Linked DNA regions of Homo sapiens. The protein of the gene in region 2 interacts with the protein of the main gene of each other region in a pairwise test. Each region holds a gene or a part of one and is shown on either strand. Other genes may lie near its edges.

What was found.
Region 1: the proteins of UMPS (region 2) and PAXIP1 interact in a two-hybrid assay, tested with the Homo sapiens proteins (one study listed by BioGRID and IntAct).

What each region holds. Positions count from the first base shown.
Region 1 is NC_000007.14:154,962,837-154,974,144, reverse strand, and holds part of PAXIP1 (PAX-interacting protein 1), read left to right. Parts: exon of another isoform or gene 1-2,938; intron 2,939-4,056; exon of another isoform or gene 4,057-4,091; intron 4,092-5,018; coding exon 5,019-5,742; intron 5,743-6,234; coding exon 6,235-6,329; intron 6,330-10,378; coding exon 10,379-10,474; intron 10,475-11,308.
Region 2 is NC_000003.12:124,722,155-124,733,451, reverse strand, and holds the start of UMPS (uridine 5'-monophosphate synthase), read right to left. Parts: upstream 3,001-11,297; 5' UTR 2,981-3,000; coding exon 2,825-2,980; intron 1,947-2,824; exon of another isoform or gene 1,848-1,946; intron 1,014-1,847; exon of another isoform or gene 936-1,013; intron 1-935. UniProt on the Homo sapiens protein: Bifunctional enzyme catalyzing the last two steps of de novo pyrimidine biosynthesis, orotate phosphoribosyltransferase (OPRT), which converts orotate to orotidine-5'-monophosphate (OMP), and orotidine-5'-monophosphate decarboxylase (ODC), the terminal enzymatic reaction that decarboxylates OMP to uridine monophosphate (UMP).

The DNA.
Region 1 (11,308 bases), on a different chromosome or scaffold from region 2:
ACCTAAGTTTCTTTTCAGATGTGTTGGGTTGGAGGTATCTGATCCATGCAGGGGCTGTCTGCTACGTGGTGGAACCAGAGAAAACAAGGCTGACTGAAGCTGTGGAGGCGGATGTGAGAATGTGTAGTAGGTGGGGCAGAGCAAGAGGAGGGTCTGGGGCCAGGCTCTGAGGAGCCGCACCATTGAGAGCCAGCTGGGCTGTTCCATCTGATGGTGACACCCCGTCTGCCGCTTCACCTTGTTCTGGACACTTTCATTTCATAATGACAGCTCAAAGTCCCAGAAAAATGGCTCTGTAGCATATAGGAACAACCTGAAGCCGGATCCAGTATTCTCCACATCCACTTTCAGTGGAAAGGCTTGATGTTGATGAAGTGGGGAAATTCAGTATGGCGTAGGTATAAGGTGATGTTGACAATGATCATTTTATTGGGTATGATAATAGCAGTGGTTTACGTAGTGTTTAGAAATGCTGTGGGACAGACAAAATCTTTGTCTCCCCTCCCCTCCACCTAAGCAGCGAGTATTAGTAGTACACGGTTCTTGGGATGATGACAGCGGTTGGCTGGCATCCAGAGTAAGATAGAGGCAAACATGCCCTTTAGATGTTAGACAGCAGACAGTTAAGATGGTGGGGGAGAAGGTGAGCAGAGAGAGAAGGTCATCGGGTTTGAGGAGAATAGAAGATTTTCAAATAGGTGATTCATAGATAGGGAAGACTTTGGGTTTCTGGCTTGAGAGGTGGATGCCTGATAAAATGCCGAGCTGGCCTTCCTCAAGTCCTGGGTGGTGACAGTGCCTTGTAACTGAACAGCAGCTGCCCGTTAGGAGCTCTTGGGCCTGCTTCAGTGCCCACCGCTCCATGTCACCTTGTTGGGTCCCGGAGGAAAACAGGCCTGCCACTGACCATGGGTCTTGGGGGTGGTTGGGAATGTGTGGCTGAGGAAATGGGGAGAAGGCCACCAAGATGAGGAGGTCCAAGAGCTGCAAGGCCAGGGATTGTCCAGGTGGGTGCCCATGAGAGCGCTGGGGTCAGCCGAGTTTAGGGAAAAGGTAGATGCACAGAAGGAGCCAGCTCCAGCACCGCCCAATGCTGAGGGTGCCGGCCCTGGTCCCTGCACATCCGCGTCCAGGCAGGTGGGCGGGATAAAGCCACAGGGCACAGCCTCAGCCACAGAGCAGCAAAGTGACGATCACACAGTCGTCCTGAGAGCCAGAGGATGTCATGACAGGTAGAAAGTAAAGGCCATAAAGAATGACAGGCTAGAGGCAAAGAGGATTCTAGCATTTTTGACCTCAGTCATGAGAAGAGTGATGATACTGCTGAGGTGGAGGAATTGAGAAGGTGACCCAGTCCTGGCAGGAAGACTGCGGCCACGCAGTGGACCTGTCCTGTCAGCAGTGGGATATGCGAGATATGGGCCGTAAAGATCTCTCTCATAGGGTTGGTGTGAGAAATCATGGATTAAGCCTCTGGCACTTCGAGAAATGGCTACTTTCTCACTTTCTTTAGGTGAGAAATTATGGACAGAAGTCATCCATTTGAAATAGGAAATTTTCTTTGCTTTTCATTTATCTGTGGTGTCAAAAAGTGTTGGTCAGTTACTGCTGGTTAGTTACTACTTATTTCTAATATATATGTTTTGGTTGTTTTTTGAGACAGAGTCTCACTCTGTTGCCCAGGCTGGAGTGCAGTGGTGGGATTTCTGCTCACTGCAAACTGCACCTCCCTGGTTTAGGCGATTCTCTTGCCTCAGCCTCCTGAGTAGCTGGGATTACAGGTGCCCATTACCACGCCCGGCTAATGTTTGTTCATTTTTATTAGAGACGGGTTTTTGCCATGTTGGCCAGGCTGGTCTCGAACTCCTGACTTCAGGTGATCTGCCTACCTCGGCCTCCCAAAGTGCTGGGATTATAGGTGTGAGCCACCGTGCCTGGCCTTATTATGTTTTTCAAATACAATGGATGTTGGTTTAAATATAAAGTTCCTTAAGTTTGTATTTGGATATAGAGACAAAATAATTTACTTTGAAATGGAAAGAATTGACTGCAGTAGGGAGTTTGGGCACATCTCTGCACTGGAAATTGTCCTTAGGAGACAAATTTGATATACTCAGCTGTGTGCTCTAGCGGTGGAAAACTGAGAAGGCTCCATCCATTTCTAGTGAGTGAATGGATTTGATCACTAGTGAGAAGAATTGCGGAGATTTTCTGAGAGACTTTCAGCAATGCAAGAGAACATAAGGACGTTTTACTTCTAGATGTGAAGAAAATGACTGAAACTTTAGAAATATGAGACAGATTTAGTTGAACATTAGATTGTTGGGGGGAGTGTAACTTACCATCAAAATCCTGTTTAAATTGCAAATTTATAGTGGTTAGAAGCCATGTGATGTGTATCATACTGCTTTCTATATATGGCATTCAGTAACTCAGTATTAATGTAAATGAGGATTATGACAGTTGTGATGGAAAAATTTAAACTTGACATTCATTCAGAATTGTTTGTAGTATAGCACAATTACGTAATTGAGCAATTAAGATTCTTTTTCTTACGTTCTCCAGGACTAACATGTTTCCAGCCAGAGGCAGATCAGATGGTTGAAAAAGTGATCGGATGAATGTGGTAGGGGTTTTGGGAGGCATCTCGATGGCTGGCCTTGCAGATTTCTCCTCTCCATCCAGGCCTGCACCTCTCGCTTCCTCAAGTGGAGAAGGTTCCAGGCCAACGGCCATCTTCATTCCTAGCCGGGACTCTTGTCCTGAATCTCCATCTGTTCTTCTCCCTTAATGGGGTGGGTCAGCAGTGGATGAAGACCCATCTTAACTCAAGCCCGTAGTAGAAACAGCTGTTAAGTTGCCTCCTGTCAGCAGTGGATGGGCTGGGTCAGCAGTGGATGAGGACCCATCTTAACTCAAGCCCGTAGTAGAAACAGCTGTAAGTTGCCTCCTGTCCTACCTAGGCCTCCCTCAGCCCTCTGAGATCAGATGGAGCACTTTCTGCAGGCAGCAGACCCTGCTGAGTCCTCTTGGCCAATCTGAAAAATAGGAGCCTCTGGCCTCTGTGCTGTCCTGATGTCTGCTGCTGTGTTTGTCTAGGTCCTGTGCCTGTTCCTGAGCTCCCTTCCACCTGGGCTTGGCAGGTACAGAGAGGCGGGGAGCAGCATTTGGTAATGACTAGTTCAGCCCTGTCCACCTGCAGACGGGCATTTATTTCTTTACCATCCCTCAGAGTTCCATGGGCTGTTTACATATGAGGGTGAAAAAGTAATATGTGTACAAAATTCAAAAATTCAAATGATACCAAAGGACAGAGTGAACAGTTAAACTCTCAGCCCCCCTCCCACCCCTCGCTGCTGTTTACCTTCTCAAGAGGCAGCCGCTGTTTCCAGCAGTTTGCCGTGTAGGGCTCATGGCTGGTGCCCACCAGGCAGGCAGGTGCCCCACACGTGCATGCTTCTTAGGGGGTGTTTGCACAGCACCAAATGCTGCTGGGCTCCATGGGGTGGCATGTTGTGGGGTGAATTGTCCCATCTTCTTTTCTGGATTTTTAAAAATACTTTTAAATATGGAGATGAAACAGTTGTCTTATTATTTTGTTTAAAAGACATTTTTCTGCTTAGAGTTCCACTCAGGTGTTTCTGAAGTCTTGAATCCTTTTATAGAGATGTCTCATACATAAGGTGATTTTAGAGATGGGTGTGCCCAAGCTCTTGATTTTGACTTATTTCAATTCTAAACTCCCTTATTTATTACTAAATCCAAAATCTGTTACCCTTGCAGGTCATATAATCTTTGCAATTTGGAATCTGTTTAAGTGAAAGATACATGTTAGAATATGTTTGAGATTTTGGTATAGTTCTGATATGTGTTAAATTCCTAGAATTTTATTTAAATTTTAAATGCTTTTAATAGGGTTAAAAGTTGTATGGATTGAGTTAAGTAAAATCTATTTTTACTGATTTCCATGACCATAAGAAGTTGGTTTCAAATTTTTGTTGCTTGAGCATGTTGAACAAAATTCATTGTATAATGTGTATCTCTTGTTGTATTCAGTGCCCTATAGGATATTAAAAAAATAACTTACTCTGCTTGGTGGGCATCTGCTGGTCACCGTCCTTCTCCTACTCCTCAGCGTACACAGAACTCTCAGCTTATTCCCTGTCATTGTGAAGCAGAAAGAGCTAGAAGACAAATAGTCTGGTTTGAATTCTTTTTTTCTAGCTTGAAATATTTTTGTGTCCCCCATGAAGACTCAGTCATTTTTGAGGAAGCATCATTTCCCAGCTCTAATGATGAGTCCTTAGTTGGGAGGAACATCACCATTTAAACAGCCCCGGTGGTGTCTTAGCTGGCCTCCTTTTCCATAGCATGCCAGTGCACATAGCAAGTTGACAGTGGAGCGAAAGGCTCTTGGACTCACAGCTTGGGTCATGCTGCTTTCATCTGGAAGGTGATCCACTGAGAACCTTTGTTTACTAGACTCTGGGCTGTAAGACAAGAGGAAATGGGAAGTGGCAGCTGTGGCGAGAAGGTTTGAGGTGAGGCTGAGCCCGATTACCAGATGCCTTCACCACCTGTCATTCCTCAGTGCATTCCTGGGCCAGGAGAGGGTCTGCGGAGCTGATGCAGGCGATGGGCAGTGGAGTGGTGCCGCAGCACGGTGCAGGGAGCACCAAGGCTTAGCTACCAGGTGTGCACAGGACTCCCATGCCCTGCTCTGGCAAACACATCAGCCGTCTGAGTCTTTGTCACTTTAATTCGTTAGTTTACTCCATTTTACTGATGTAGTTTCAAATTTTGGTGGTCTCAATATATGAATTTACTTTACGATATTGGCGTTACAAAATAAATACAAAAGAAAATGCAGTATTGTTTTTGCAGTTTCCAATCATTTGCTGTGTCTACTTAGTTGAATATTGTTAATAAATAGGATATGCCATTCTCTTGACTAAGAAATTATCATTCATCTGTTTCAGGAACTGTTGATAATGTTTCACCTAACTTTTGTTTTGTAGATCTTACAGACTCTTTCAGCACCTACGAAAAATTTAGAACAGCAGGTGAATCACAGCCAGCAGGGACATACAAATGCCAATGCAGTGCTGTTTAGCCAAGTGAAAGTGACTCCAGAGACACACATGCTACAGCAGCAGCAGCAGGCCCAGCAGCAGCAGCAGCAGCACCCGGTTTTACACCTTCAGCCCCAGCAGATAATGCAGCTCCAGCAGCAGCAGCAGCAGCAGATCTCTCAGCAACCTTACCCCCAGCAGCCGCCGCATCCATTTTCACAGCAACAGCAGCAGCAGCAGCAAGCCCATCCGCATCAGTTTTCACAGCAACAGCTACAGTTTCCACAGCAACAGTTGCATCCTCCACAGCAGCTGCATCGCCCTCAGCAGCAGCTCCAGCCCTTTCAGCAGCAGCATGCCCTGCAGCAGCAGTTCCATCAGCTGCAGCAGCACCAGCTCCAGCAGCAGCAGCTTGCCCAGCTCCAGCAGCAGCACAGCCTGCTCCAGCAGCAGCAGCAACAGCAGATTCAGCAGCAGCAGCTCCAGCGCATGCACCAGCAGCAGCAGCAGCAGCAGATGCAAAGTCAGACAGCGCCACACTTGAGTCAGACGTCACAGGCGCTGCAGCATCAGGTTCCACCTCAGCAGCCCCCGCAGCAGCAGCAGCAACAGCAGCCACCACCATCGCCTCAGCAGCATCAGCTTTTTGGACATGATCCAGCAGTGGAGAGTTAGTAATGGAGATTATTTTTCCTCTCTCCTAAAAGTCTTGTACCCACATAAATGCTTTGAGAGTGTTTGAGTGTGGGGTGAGGATTCATATCAAAACAATTACTACAAAATGGAGAGTGTGAGTCTCATACCTAACAAAGAATATAGTTACCATGGGATAATTATGCTTTCTTTTGTACTTTGGGACATCATATCCTGAAGTGAATATTGGTGTCCCGTAGAACATCTAGGCTGCCACAGGGACTCATTCAGGGTATTTAATGGCCAGGCATGAGTTACCTTGGTTTTAGTTTTTAATGATCATTTGATGTAGACAGTTAAATAGTATCTTCGTAGCAATATTCCCTATGCACTCTGATTACTGGCAGATACGTCATGGTCAAGACTGATAAACATAACAGATTGACATTGTGAGGCGCCACTTTTTAACTTTTGTGCAAGCATATTCATAGGGTTTTAATTTTCTTTTTCTTATGTAATTTTACTCTAGTTCCAGAAGAAGGCTTCTTATTGGGATGTGTGTTTGCAATTGCGGATTATCCAGAGCAGATGTCTGATAAGCAACTGCTGGCCACCTGGAAAAGGGTGAGATTGTGCCTGGAGGAAGGATGACTGTGTCTGAAGATGCTTCTTTCTTATGTAGATGTAACTGTGTTCACTTAGCTGCATTCACTGAGCTGCACCTGCACGTGTTCTGAATGTGTGACGGGCATTTTGATTAACATTCTGTGTGACCTGAGGCACAGCACTTTTCTGGGCATCAGTTTTCTCAGCTGTTAGATGAAGATGGTGGACTTTTTATTTTTTTCAGCTTGGAAATTCCAGGGGGCACTAATTATATGTGTATAATTGGGGCAATGGAAATAAGTTCAGGGTTTTGGTGTCCTGGGAGAGGGACTATTAATTTGTATGCATCTCAGTCATTTCTCTTTCTCCAAAGGTAACTGTTAGAAAATCCTGGAATCTCTAGAACCTCAAATTCTTCCAGCCCAATTGTGAAACTGGAGTTAATTTAATTATGTATTATCATGCATGGTGGCCTTTAAAGAAAAGAAATACTTTTTCTTGCATTCCCCAAAACAAAACTGAGTCAAAAAATTTTTTTTATAAAAACCGAGTTTAAATATGCCTCTAATATATCTTGAATGTGCTTCACTATAAACATCCCTAGTGCTTAAATCCCTGCTATGTGCCAAGCATGCTGCAAGACTTAGGGAATATGTGCGAAATCACAGAGACGGAGAAAACGGAAGAGCAGTGCGAGAGGCAGCCACACGGCTAAGCAGAGGTGGGGTGGCAAATGCAGGCTGTTGTGAGAGCCTGAGAAAGGACCTTCACCCATCGTGTTGTGGGGTGATGTGTTAAGAAAAGTCTGCTGGGAGAGGTGATTCCTGAACTGCTTATAGGATGAGTAGGAGTGAGAATTAGGGGGGAGGATTTTCCAAATAGTGCAGCACAGCCAAAGGCATGTGATTGGTGAAACTGACAGGAGGGTGCAAAGGAGGGTGCCTCAGTGGGATCCACGAGGCAGGGGTTGGGGCAGGAGCCAGGGCTGGTGTGTCTTCCAAGACCTTGTTGGTGTGCCATGTGGTGAAGTTTAGATGCAGGTGAAGTGATCAGCTGTGCATTTTAAATAGTAAAGGGTTGAATCTGAGGGTGACCAGGGAGATGACTGTGTGGCTGGCTGAGGAAAGAGGCGGATGGCATGTGCCAGGGTGAGGAAGGAAGGGAGCAGTTCTGAGAAGGACAGCAGCAGAGATTTTTTAAAAGTCAGAAGTGTTCGAAGGCAGCACTGAGAAACTGTCTTGAGAAGTACAACAAAACTCAAAGATACAAAAGTTAGTGGAGAAAAGTTTGGGGTTTTTGTCTTGTTTTCAAGTTAAAAGATTTATCCAAGAGGTCTAACATTAAATAGGATCTTGGGAACAGAGAAAATGAAGGCAAGAACATTATGAAAGAAAATAGCTTTGCAACTGAAGGCCATGTGCCCTCAGGTTGAAAAGAAATGTAAGGAGAGCCATGATAAGGCAACTGGGAACATTCACAATGCTGGTAGAGAAAACTGTTTTCTCTCAAAGACAAGCTCACTGGAGGGGAAACGTGGACAGATCAGGAGTCTGGGTGATTTCGGGAGCCTCCAGTGCAGTGCGCGGGGGCCAGCAATGGAGCAGCTTCTTCCATTTTTGAGGGAAAATAATTTCCAACCTAAAATAACCTATAGAGCCTATCAGTCATAAGACTATGGAAGGAGGATATTTGTAGACTAATGGTAAAAAATGTACCTCCCTTATATTCTTTCTTAGGAAGCCACTATGCCAGCAGAGAGTGAAACATGGTAGCCAGGAAATGAGGCATTTGACTCAGAGATTGAAAGAGAGTTCCTAGGATGGAGGTAAAGGGAAACGCCAATAGATGAGAAAGTAGGTGTCGAGAGAACTAGACCTGGGACCGGAAGAGAGACTTCCAGGAGGAGCAAGCAAACGAAAACACTGGTAGATTGAGGAGAGACATGTACCGCTGACCCCTGAACAGTGTGGGGCCTAGGGGTGCTCACCCCCATGCAATCAGAGATCTGTACATCACTTTTGATTCCCGAAAACCCAAATTACTAATAGCCTGGTGTTAACCAGAAGCCTTACTGATAAACAGGCAATTAACGCATATTTTGTATATGTATTACCATATTCTTACAATAAAGTAAGCTAAAGAAAAGAAAATGTTATTAAGAAAATCATAAGGAAGAGAAAATATATGTACTATTCATTAAGGGGAAGTATATCATCATAAAGGTCTTCATCCTCGTCGTTTTCACGATGAGTGGGCCTAGGAGGAGGAGGGACAGGAGGGGCTGGTCTTACTCCCTCAGGGGTGGCAGAGGTGGAAGAAAATCCAGCTATCAGTGGACCCACACAGTTCACACCTGTGTTGCTTAAGTATAGGTGATACTACATTCATTTTCTCTTGCTGTGTAACAGATTATCTCAAAACCCAGTGGCTTAAAACAATAAACATTACCTCTCAGTTTGGTCGTGGGTCAGAAATCCTGCAACAGCTTGGCAGGGCGGTTGTGGCTCAGCTATCTCCTGAGGTTGCAGTCAGGATGCCAGCGGAGGCTGCAGGAGCCCCTTCCAGGATGGTTCCGTCACATGGCTGTGGGCTGGAGGCCTCAGCTCCTCACCACAGAGGCTCTCCAGAGGGCTGGTTGTGTGTCTTCACAGCATGACAGCTGGCTCCCTTCCCCAGGGGGTGTGACCCAAGATAGAGGGAAAACCCGCAGCGTTATGGTGTCTTTTGTGACTGAGTTATGGGAGACTCCCACTGTCAATTCCACCATATTAAGTGACTAAGTCTAGACCATATTTAAGGCTAGGGGAGTAAAGCTCCAACTCTTAGAGGGAGGAGTATACAGTAATTTGCAGACATATTATAGAACCACCATATGTACATTTTTCATAGAGTTTGGGAATGAAATAGTAAAAGGTATATAGAAAACTAAGAAAAGGGAAAATTCTGGGGGGCTGGGATGAGGAAGTGATTAGCACCAGGGAAAACCAAAGTTTATACCAGAAAGGAACTCTAATCTTAGGCTGCCATATTAAGCCATGTGGCTGGGCTACATTGTGTTAAGTCACTGATGAATGATCTAAACAAGAGTCTGGATATAACCAAATCAGGAAGGCTTGAAGAATGTGTGTGTTATTGGGGGGAACGGTGTCCACAGTAGGAGGTAGATGGTTATGTAAAACTAGAGAAAAGGAACTAATATAAAGTGTTAGTTGGAATATATTAATAATTGTCAGTGGAAACAGCTTAAAGTGCTAAATGTGCTTCAGGGGAGTGAAAAGCAGGGATGGGTGAGGAACCTGTGGTTTTGTCCTGTGCCTCATTAAACTATATTTATGCTTAGCCATAGGAAAAATAAACATTCACATCTTAAAAGTAGTAAGTGAAAGAATCGGTTTTCTTAGGGGGCAGGTCTTTTTAAAGTTTATATTTCACCTAATAGGCCGTCAGATTCTCCTTTTTCCATGTACAATATTTTGAGTTCTGAAGAATGTCCAGGGTCGTGCAGCTGTCACAGCCCGGACACAGAGCAATTCCTTCCCCCAGAAAACCAGATGTGTTTTGAGAAGAAACTGTTGGGATTTACTAATTTCATTCTGATTTGCTTTTTATTTCCCTTTTTAAGGGAGGTGGATCTGCCCACCATAGACCTTTGGCAGTATCTGAAGATCTTTAGTAGTCGCGGCTAGGGGGCTGCTGCTGGCATAGGGTGGGTAGAAGTTGGGGACACTGCCAAACATCCTCCTCTGTACAGGACAGCCCCCACTTCCCAGAACTCCCTGGTCCAGAGTGGCAGTTACATTGAGCTTGAGAAGCCCTGGAGTGCATTCCATTGTTCTTCTCTTGTATCCTGGGAATTCAGATTAAATTTAGAGTATTGGAGTTCATTTTCATTGTATGGTGCTGGGTAGAAAAGTCCGTAAATAGAACTGTTACATGTCCTTGATACTTTGAGGAAATACATGATATAAATATATGATAGAGTCTTTTAATAGCTGCCTTATTTGAAATTGGAATTCTCCTCTATTCTGAGTGATTGATGACTGCATTGGTCGGGTCTTTGTGTGTAGATAATCCAGGCACATGGCGGCACTGTTGACCCCACCTTCACGAGTCGATGCACGCACCTTCTCTGTGAGAGTCAAGTCAGCAGCGCGTATGCACAGGTAAGGAAAATAGCCTTAGCTGCGACCAGGAGCAAGGTCTGGCATTTTTAATATGCAATCTTAAATGCTAGTGATTATTATTTTTGGAAAGAACTTTTTTCTACCTCTAAAGATAGGAAAATTCCTTCTTCCTGTGATCGAATCTTTGGTGGGATTGATATCTTTTGTGGGCACCATTGTCTTTGAGCAATGGAGAAAGAAAGGGATGTTCCCAGGTGGTGTTAAGAAAGGGCGGACAGGAGGCCGAGGTGGACGGGTCACGAGGTCAGGCGTTTGAGACCAGCCTGACCAACCTGGTGAAATCCTGTCTCTACTAAAAATACAAAAATTAGCCAGGTGTGGTGGTGCGCAGCTCTAATCCCAGCTACTCAGGAGGCTGAGGCAGGAGAATTGCTTGAACCCAGGAGGTAGAGGTTGCAGTGAGCCAAGATTCCACCACTGCACTCCAGCCTGAGTGACACAGCGAGACTCCATCTCAAAAAAAAATAAAAGAAAGAAAGGGCGGACACTCCCTGCAGTCACCATTCCAGCTGCTCTCTGTGCACGGTGAAGGGACGCAGGATTCTGTACTGGTGTGTGACTTGCACACAAGCGTGTAAAGACCAGGTCCCTTACAGAGCTTTTCTAAAACTACCGGGGTGCAGGCTTTCTCCTCAATATTACCTTCCTGTGCTCTCTGAAGTTTCATTTCTTTTCAAAAAATAATGCTTATTGTAGACAGATTATATATATATGTGACAAATGACTTCCAAGACACCCCTCTTAAAGAGGATAGCCATTCACAGGATCTGCTTTTCCTGTAAAAATGTGGAAATACTTCTGAGACTTTTTTTT
Region 2 (11,297 bases):
TGCTGCCTCATGACCCTCACCAAAGCCCATGTAAGGAGCTGAATCCTTAAGGACTGAAGAGAAACTATTCTCTTGAGGAAAAGAAAATGGAAATTGTACTTTTTAAAGAAGAGAATTCTTCTGTATATCATTAAATTATAACAAGCATATGATTAATTCAAACATGATTTGCAAATTTTGACAGAGAGATAAAAACAGATTTGGAAAATGCATTTTTAGTGAGTTAATGCTACCTTTCCTCTCCAATTACTTTATGTACACTAATGTGTATATAGTACTATAGTCAAATATCACTTATTATCACTTATTAAGGGAAGTTAGAGTTTAGCATAAATTATATTGCTTTTTGGGGTGTAAATACTGAGAAATTCTATTCGCATAAGATGTGAAAAGAAGTTTTGTTATACCCAAGTCTCTCCATGTTTTGAACTCCTCCCCAGTTAATCACCAAAATACACACACACACACACACACACACACACACCATGATCTAGTTATCAAAAAACTTTTTCTGTCATTTATCAGCTGGCTTATTAAAATAAATCAATTTTTCCCTAGAAAATCCTTAGTAATTCTCCACATTGCTAAGATACACCATAGCAAGATTCTGGATGGTGAGAAGTTAATGGTCCAAAGTACCGCAACCTTAATAGTCCAACCTATCTTCAATACTTTTTACAATAACCACACAAAGTGGTCCCTAGTGAACATAAACCCTTAAGTGGGCTGAGGAAACTTATATGTCTTCTTGATAGAACTTTCTGCAATGATGGAAATGTTCTCTATCTTTGCAGTCCAATATGATAGCCACTGGCCATATATGACTATTTAAACTTAAAAATTCATAATGCTCAATAGTAACACGTGGCTAGTAGCAAACTGTATTGGAAAGCATATTTACGGCCCTCTACTCAGTGTGGTCTGCAGTTTCAGCTGGCACTTTGTTAGAAATGCACAACCTCAGGTCTAGTCTCAGAGCTACAGAAATGGATTCTGCATTTTAACAAAATTCCCAGGTAATTCATATATACTCAAAGTTGAGAAGCACTGTATTAGAAACCTCTAATTTGTACAAAAATTTTCCTTATATTGACTAAAAACCTGCTTTCCCAATATGTCCACCTTCTAGTCTTAATTATTGCTTCTGGCCGCACAGTGCAAAATTCAACTCCCCTTTCCAAACAGCCCTTCCAAGTGTGGACCTAACAGGAAGAGGCTGAGGCAAAATTAATATGAGTAGTTGCCCTGACTATAGGCTTCGATTACAGTAGTTACAAGTGGATTTTTAAAGCAAAAGAAGGGGCAGTTCCTATATTCACCAAGAATTTGCATTGAAATAACAGGAGGTAGCCCGGGGGTGGCACCAGGCATTTGTAGTCCCAGCTACTTGGGAAGCCGCCAAGGCAAGAGGATCTTTTGAGGCCAGGAGTTTGAGACGAGCCTGGGCAGTATGGTGAGACCTCCTCTCTACAAAAAAAAAAAATTTTTAATTTGGTGGGCATGATGGCACATGCCTGTAGTTCCAGCTACTCAGAGGTTGAGGTAAGAGGATCTCTTTTTTTTTTTTTTTTCTGAGACAGTCTCCCTCTGTTGCCCAGGCTGGAGTGCAGTGGCTCAATTTCGGCTAACTGCAACCTCCTGATTCTTCTGCCTCAGCCTCCTGAGTAGCTGGGATTACAGGTGTGCACCACCATGCCCAGCTAATTTTTGCATTTTCAGTAGAGACAGGGTTTCACCATGTTGGCCAGGCTGGTCTCGAACTCCAGACCTTAAGTGATCCACCCGCCTCAGCCTCCCAAAGAAAGCCTCCCAAAGTTGGGACTACAGGCATGAGCCCCTGTGCTCACCCGAGGCAAGAAGATCTCTTAAGCCCAGGAGTTCCAGGCTGCAGTGAGCTATGATCACAGAGCTGCACTCCAGCCTGGGTGACGTAAGAGAGATCCCATCTAAAAAATAAATAAATAAAATAATAACACAAGCGATTGATTAGCTATACATTGTTCTTTGTATCACACATTCCAGGTACATTAAGATAATGGGAGAGGCAGCTAGTCAGGGACAAAATTCCTTTAAATAATTGTCCCGGGGCTGCATAGGGGAGTATGGTTGAAGTCTCTCTGGGCTCTGATAAATTTTGTATACATCACAGAGTTCTGGTTGTTCTATTTTCCTTTTCTCACCAGTAATTTCCCAGCTACTGAATTCTCTGCCTACCCACGTTTTCCCGGTCTATTTGTTTGTTTTTTGAGGGCAGGGTCTCACTTGTCGCCCAGGCTGGAGTGCAGTGGCGCAATGACAGCTCATTGCAGCCTTGACCTCCCAGGCTCAGGTGATCCTCCCACCTCAGCGTCCCAGGCGTGCGCCACCACACCCAGCTAATTTTTTGTAGAGACGGGGTCTCGTCATGTTGCCCAGGCTGGTCTCGAACTCCTGGGGCTCAGGTGATCTGCCCACTTAGGCATCCCAAAGTGCTGGTATTACTCTCATGAGGCACCACGCCCGGCCGCAAGTCTAATTTTCTTAAAGAGTTAAATATACAGAATTCATTCAAGTGTGCTTCAGTGCCAGAAAGCGTTCCAAACTGGGTTTCCCGACTTTTGCAAAACACGTGTCTAAGCGTGTGGGTGAAAGAACAGACGACTCTCGAGGAGCCCAACCCCTGGCCTCTGTGCTTCTCATGCTTACTCCCCAAACCAAGAGTAGGGTCGGTCTGCCTGCTTGGCTCTTTTGCTCTCACTCACGGCCCAACTCCTGTCACCCTCTTCCATTTCCTTGTCCTCCTTCCCGCCACCAAGCCCTGTCCTTTCCCTTCCTAGGCCAGCACCTGACTCAGAAGACGCGGTCGAGACACGATGCCCCGCAGATCGATGTAGATGGGGGAGGAAAGCCCGCTCTTCAGCACGAAGTCCCCAAACTTGAAAGCCTGCACGTCGTACAGACCCGTCACCAATGGCCCCAAAGCTGCACGAGCGACCGCCATTGTCGCGCGCTGCCTGTTTGCTTCAAATTCCCAGGCGCCCCGGGCCTCCGGCGCCCCGATGACGTCACCCGCGAAGTCCCGCCTCTTCCGCCTGCCTCGTCTGCAGCTTTCCCGGCTTGCTGCACCCGTGGGTTTCCCCGGGCTCAAGGGTCAGGTGGATGGTAGCGAACCTAGCGCCAGTTTGTGCTTCTCCTGGTTTCTTCTGGATGGGGTCGCTGGGGTTCAAAGCCCAGAACAGCTAGATTGACTGTAGGATCATGAAGTCCCACCTTTCATGAGAGTTTGCATAAATCCTGTCCATTTTTTAATAGCCAATGCCTTCTCGACTAGTTCTCTTAATTATCTCTACTCCTTGGCCTAACATGTTATATTTGCTAGTTATTAGCCAAGATTTACCCCCCATGTTTCTCCAAATAGAATATAAGTTATCAAAGACAGGGACCTTTACTCAATTCTTTTATTAACTTCATAGCATCTAGTACGTGACAGTTCCATAGCAGTTTGCACATAGGAATATATAGCACTTAGATCATTACAGTATTCATTACCTCTTTTGTCTGTACTCTGCTTCCTGGAGGAGTACTTTTTTATTTCCTTTGGCGTACCTCAAATGCTTAGGTAATAGGTGTAGAAAAGGTAAGGGAGGGAAGGAGGAGAGTTAGAAGACGGTTAATTGATTGGTATCAGGGTTATCCAGGAGGATAATATTGCTAGACAATCTGAAAATCCAAACATATTTGGTCTTTACAAATAAATCCCTTAAAGAAATAATCAATAAATAATCTGTACAAATAAATCCCTTCTCCATTGTGTATATAAGGCAATACTTTATTCTAGCTTAAGGAAAATAACCCTTAAATTCACATAAAGAATGAAACCTTGTCATTTGCAGCAAGGTGGATGAACCTGAAGGACATTATGTTAGTGAAACAAGCCAGGAACAGGAAGATAAATACCAAATGTTCTCGCTCATATGCAGAAGCTAAAAAAGTTGATCTCATGGAGCTAGAGAATAAAATAGTAATCACTAGAGGCTGGGAAGGGTAGGGGGTGGTTAAAGGACACAAATTACAGCTAGATAGGAGGAATAAGTCCTAGTGTTCCATTGCACTGTAGGGTGACTGTAGTCAATAATAATTTACTATATATTTTAAAATAGCTAGAAGAGGGGCGTTTGAATGTTCCCAACACAAAGAAAGGATAAATATTTAAGGTGAGGAATATATGAATTACTCTGATTTGATCACTGTACATTGTGTGTATTGAAATAGCACTATGTACCCAATAAATGTGTACGATATCATGTGTCAACTATAACAAATACTTTTTTAAAAAAGAGGAACAGATAAGGCATAGCTGTATAGTGCACTACAAAGAACATGAAGTTTCAAACCAAAACATTTGGATTTTAGTCCCATTCTACTTACTGGCTGAGTGATCTTTGGCAATGCATTTTGAGCTATATGAGTCTCAATTTTCTCAAAAATAGAATGAAGAAGCCGGGCGCGGTGGCTCACGCCTGTAATCCCAGCACTTTGGGAGGCTGAGGCGGGCGGATCACGAGGTCAGGAGATCAAGACCATCTTGGCTAACATGGTGAAACCCCGTCTCTACTAAAAATACAAAAAAATTAGCTGGGCATGGTGGTAGGCGCCTGTAGTCCCAGCTACTCGGGAGGCTGAGGCAGGAGAATGGTGTGAACCCGGGAGGCAAAGCTTGCAGTGAGCCGAGATCGCATCACTGCACTCCAGGCTGGGCGAAAGAGCCAGACTGCGCTCAAAAAAAAAAAAAAAGAATGAAGATAATAATATTAACTTTCTCCAAAAATCACTATGAAGATTCAATAAGATAGTTCACTCAAAAACACTTGATAAAAAGTTGGTAGAGCTGAGTGTGGTGGCTCATGCCTGTAATCCCAGTACTTTGGGAGGCCGAGGGAAGTGGATCACCTGAGGTTGAGAGTTCGAGACCAGCCCAGTCAACATGATGAAACCCCGTCTCTACCAAAAAATACAAAAATTAGCCGGGCATAGTAGCACATGCCTATAGTCCCAGCTACTTGGGAGGCTGAGGCAGGAGAATTGCTTGAACCCCGAGGGGGTGGAGGTTGCAGTGAGCCAAGATCATGCCACTACACTCCAGCCTGGGCAACAGAGACTCTGTCTCAACAACAACAAACAAACAAACAAACAACAACAACAACAAAAAAAAAAGCAGAGGAACATAGATTGTACCAATTCATTTTGTGTTCTCCATTTCATTTACTTAGGCTGGGTAAAGGATCTTGGCTTTAACCAATATTTAGTCTTACTATTTTAGGTATTTACCCTAAAGAGTTTCCATGAATGTAAAATTTCATGCAGTAGTTCAATCTGAGCCTTTTCATGGACCTAGCTCTATATTGCTTACTGAATCCCTTCTGTATTCTACTCTGATATCTATTTTAGACTGAGCTTGTGGGGTTCTGATTATCATTTGTATTAGGGCTTTTGCTAATATTCCATAACTATATTGGTGATTCCTCTGAACCACTCCCCTTCAAAAAAATATAGGCTGAGGTACTGTTATTTAATTATTTATTATTGTTTGACCTACACTATACACACACAGAGACACTGAAACACACACATACACATTTATTTTAAGTTATGTTCTAGGGCCAGGTCAGTGGCTCATGCCTGCAATCCCAGCACTTTGGGAGGCAGAGATGGGAAGCCCAGGAGTTTGAGACCAGCCTGGGTAACATGATGAGACTCTGTCTCTTCAAAAAATAAAAAAAATTAGCCAGACATCATGGCACACACTTGTGGTCCCAGCTACTGGGGAGGCTGAGGCAGGAATATCACTTGAGCCTGGGAGGTTGAGGCCACAGTGAACTGTGATCATGCCACTGCAGTCCAGCCTGAGTGACAGAGTGAGACCCTGTGCCAAAAAAAAAAAAAAAGTTATCTTCCAGTGAATGTCTCAGTGACCTTGAACAATCACCTAGATTCTGTGACTCAGTTTTCTCTAATCCAAGTAAAATAACTTACTTCATAAGAATTTGTTGGGATTAAATGAAATATTAATTACAAATGGGCTTCATAAGCTATATAGGTGCTAAAATACATACAAATTCTAGATAAAAAAAAAGCCCATAAGGGGCTTATGATTTTAACTCATAAACCTGATTCTGATTTCATTTCTAATATTCTTTATTATCTATATTTTCTCAGGAGATTGTGCTGATGAGCCAATGTGAAGAGCCCATGCTTTTGACAAGTGTTTCTCATTACAAATAAATGCAATAAAATCTTAATGAAATAGAAGCCAAATGTTAAAACATGTTTTTGTTTTCTTGGCAAAATAAGCTAATCAAAACACTTTAACACTCTGGCTAATTGACAGTATACCATGAATCAGCCTCATTTGCACGTGGGTGGCACATTTAAACTTTCAAAGCCTGATCATATCTGTATAGGCTAACCCAAATTGCTGGAGTCCACACCAGAATGTATAAACTTGTGAGATCCAGCCCAAAATACCCTCCAGACAGTCTAACAACATTATCACCTGAAATACCAGTATGAAATTAACAACAACCCGAGGCTTTTTTTTTTTTTTTTTTTTTTTTTTTTTTTTTTTTTTGAGATAGGGTCTGGTCTCACTTTGTTGCCCAGGCTAGAGTGAGGTAGCATAATCACAGCTCACTGTAGCTTCTACCTCCCGGGTTCAGATGATGCTTCCACCTCAGCCTCCCAAGTAGATGGGATCACAGGCATGCACCAACACACTCAGTTAATATTTTTAAAACAATTTTTAATATGTGGGGGGTTGGGGGGACGTGGGTGTCTCCTTATTTTGTCCAGGCTGGTGTCAAACTCCTGGGCTCAAGAGATCCTTCCACTTTGGCCTTTCAAAGTGTTAGGATTTACAGGTGCTAGCCACCACACCTGGCTCTGAGGTTTCCTTGGCATTTTTGGGTAAATGCCTTAGAATACTCTAGGGCACAAAATTGTTGCTTTCTCTCTAAAATCCTGGGCCAAACATGTTGTAATAATCCTGTGATATTTTTACCTTTTCTAAGTCTTTCATATATTTGGAGAAAGAAAAAAATTACTCTTTTCTTTGAACAAAGGTTTAATTAGGAAAAAAGAGACAACCATATAGTATCTTTAGTATAGTATATTTATAGGAATGCATAACATGTGAGATGTACATTTTGAAGTTTCATCCATAACTTATAACATTTACTGTAGCAGTAACAAGACAGCAGGTCATCACTTTACAACATTACACATGAGTGATTTTGACTTACAAATAAAATATTTACAACCTACCTTTACAAAACGACATTGTGTGCATACAAAATGAACAACAGCAGAAAAATTTAAAAATAATAAAATAACCAAAAACCCAGAAGATACACTTAAGGCAGACCAGCAAGACACTGAAATAATTAAGGCTGTGGAATTCTTCTGCACCTTGAAAATATAGAGCTATTTATCAATACTGTGGAGTGATTTTAAATCAATTGTTACAAGCCTGATGGAAGTATGTACTTATATGTATATGTGCGATGGTCCCTATGGGGAAACCTGTCCACTTATGAATAAGGCCCTTTGTCTGAATGGCCAGTGAAGCCCACTCCAAATTCTCAAAAGACTTGAGGGGGGCAGGGGTCACTCAAAACCAAGAGATGCCAATACAGTTTGCAAATCAACTATTAATAGTTCAAATGTAAAGATAGTTATAAGTCCAGATAAACAGAATAAACTAAATGATGGCCCCTTTATGTTTCACACTTTGTTAGTTTGGCTTTGTGGATGTCAAAAGACAGCAAATTAATTCCAGAATGAGTAGAATTCGTCTCCACAAATTAGCCCTAATGGTTTTGAATGGCCCTAAATGGTTTTCCATTAGAAACATTGACCCACCTGGGCTGTCTGCAAATGGATAGATTTCTGCATATGAGCAATAACATATACATACATATTATACACTATATACATGTACAGATGTACATATATCCATATTTTCCAACAGTTTGCACTTTGATCACTACTGTTCTCTGAACAGGATCTCATTATGAAGAGTATGTTTAGTTTTTTTCAGTCTTCATATTTGTTCTAACTACTAGTTTTACTCACCTTCCCCATAGAGTAGGCTGAAGTTTGGCAGAAACAGAAGTAAAAGCACCAGGGTCAGAAAAATCAAACATAGAGTTGACAGATATGGCTTAAGTTAGTAAGAGAAGATGTATGTCTTGTTAACTTCAGATTCGTAGCCACAGTCTTTGAGGTCATAGTAACAGTCTCTGTAATACTCCAGAACATGGATTCAGTTGTTGATGGAAGTCAGGTATTGATGGAAACTCATATGATGGCCATCCCTGGGCCAACAAATTAGCTTGGTTAAACTAAGCCTCAGGAGTTGGCATTCCAAGAATTGTTATTTGCATTTCTTCTACCATGCTTCCTTTTCTCAGCTAACCTCACTATCTGAAATAGCAGTTATCTAACTAATGCGTTATCTTGATCATTTGAATAAAAACTAAATCTGAACACATTTTAGAATCTCACAGCAAAGGGGCACATTTCTCACAGAAAAATGCAATAGCCTGTGCGTATTAATTTCAGGCTTATCATAATGTCCCTCAAAGACGAAAAGTTGTCTTAGAGTGATTGCTTTTTCCTCTCCTCTAACTTCTTCATATTTATTGAAGATGAGGAAGAAATGCCTTTCATAGAAAATATGTTTTATGATAATCTGTATTCTACTACTTCTGCTTAAATTTTTTATGTGAGTAAATTTCCTATTAAAAACATTTAGTGCTATAAACAAATTTCAGCCCTTTTTAACCCTTTAGAATTAATGAAACAACTGAGAGCCTTAATATTTTTAGAAAATAAATATTAACATAGTAGCTTTCCTTTTCTTGATGGAGCGTGTGTGAGCTCTGTCGTCTCTAAGCCCACCATGGGTTTAATCATTCATCATCAAATCATCCCTAGGCTTTAAATAGTGAGGAAAAATCAAGGTGCAGTTTTATAAATAAATTCACTGAAAGGTCACATATTGCATTTGTCTAACCCAGACTCCACAGAGGTGCGACCCAGGAGAGAAAGGAAGAAGGTCTACATTCCTCGAAACTCATCCAGCACAATTCATTGACCATACTGAATAAGGACATGGTGAGTTTGAACTTTGCCCTACTACAAAGACCTCTTACGTACAAAATAATTTCCTCCTGTATTAAATGCATGGGACAAAGTTTTAGTTAATGCAAAATTTAGTTTATATCATATTTGCTCCCTCATATTCTCACAAATCTAAATTGCCATGCTCTTCCACAGAGGCAAGAAAAAAGTAATGCCTAACTCGTGGGCTCTAATCATGGAGGTTATGGGATAGCAAATATGCAACTCCTAAAAGACCTAACCACCTAAAAAAAAAAAAAAAGATTCAAGGTTTGTCCTCCAAAAATGAGCAGTCCAATTCATTTCTATGCATTTAATTTGCCTGTGCATTTAATTTGTCTCTTAGATTCCTGTGAGGCTGTGAAAAATAAATTGTGGTATGAGAAGATATTTTCTTCTCACTTCTGCCCTCCCAAGTGAAGAAAGTGGTTGTTGGGTTCTTCTCTGTCCTTTTTTCCAGAGCATAAAGCTTGAGAAGGAAGGTAGCAGTTGCTTTCAAGGGCATTTTACTCTTCGCATCTGCCATAAGAAATACTGGAGAAAACAACTTATGGACATAAGACTTCATCAGCTCTCCTAACCCTTTTCGGTAGACAAGCTCTTAAATGATCGAAATTATAGGCTAAGACCAAATAACATTTAGACAAAGAGCACCTGATACTTCCAACTGAAAACAATTTACAGAATTTAATCTCATGAGTTTATAATTGGTATCTAAAGACGTGAATATTGAAAACCTGGAATGTTCAAAGTTACTATCAATAAAATTCTTAGCACTGGCAGTGTGTAGCACTTAAAAAAATCAAAGTATTTTATAGATGTCCCCACCAAGGTTATTTCTCAACATTCCTGTAAGATTAATGTCCTCCCTCCTTCCCCATCCCCCAACTCCCATTTTACCAATGGGGACATTTGGGGAAGGAAAAACAAAGACTTTCTGTAAGAAAAGATGAATCAGGAATAGCTGAGATTGAAACTCAAACATTCCTGGTCCCACCCCTATATTCAGATGTTTTCATTTACAAGATATTTTAAAGTAAAGAAAAAATGCTGCAATATCAGTACATCTAAATGCAATGAACTTCTTTATCTCCCATCCTCCCCTCTGAAAGGCACTACTATTTATAAAGGCTTTGTGGACCACAAAGCAGTGAAGCTAGCTTTCTCCTCTGCTTCCTCTACTCCCCCTTACATTGTTTATGGCTGAGAGAGACCTGAAGGATATCTCCAACATTACCATTTTTTTCTTAAAAATTTTACCACATTCAGCTGTAAGTGGATATATATCTATTTAATTTGAAACAAATGTAAAAGATGTAGGAAATCATTATATTAATACTTCTTAAAAGTTATTATGGGTTGTCCCTGATCTTTTCATTCTTTCTGTATCCCACCCTTACAAAACAAAACAAAACAAAAAGCTCAAAACCCTATGCAATGAATAAAAGCCAAGCAAGAAACTTGTGACCTTGACCATTGTTTGTTTTTCCCATTTCAGCTGAAAGTTCACTCCCACTGTGAACTACCATCATAATGATAGAAATGGACCATTTTCTCTTCTCTCCTCTCTTCTTTACTACCAAGTAATAAATCTCTCCGCCAAAACAGGAACAAGAGTGGCCCCTGATCCTTTTTCCCTAAGCACGGTTGCCCTCAGAGCAACCTAAAGTACATTCCCCAGGATCATCATCATCTGGGATTCCTTGTTATTTCCAACTTGCTGTGGAGAACTCTTGAACCAAGACTACTCTCTTATCTCTGTTGGGAGGGACCAGGAGCTTTGCAGACAGGGAGCCTCCCTGTTAGTTTCCCTCCGTTATCAAACTATATAAAATATACCCCCTTTCTCTTGGGGCCTCTATTAAGTTCATTCTAGTCTAATGATTGTACCTTGGCTCCAGTTAACAAAATCATCCTACTTTTCATTTCTAGGTCCCTCCTTTCCTGTCTTCTCACTTCCCAAATATGTGTACTTGGGGGAATTCCATGCAACCCCACATCTGGATCCTCCCAACTCTGTTGTAAAAGCTGATATGAAAGCTTGGGGTCTGTCTAACATTCTGTCAACTGCCCCCATAACATAATTTCAAAAATACCCTCCTTGTCCCCCACCTGCCGTGGTCTGCACACCATTGTTC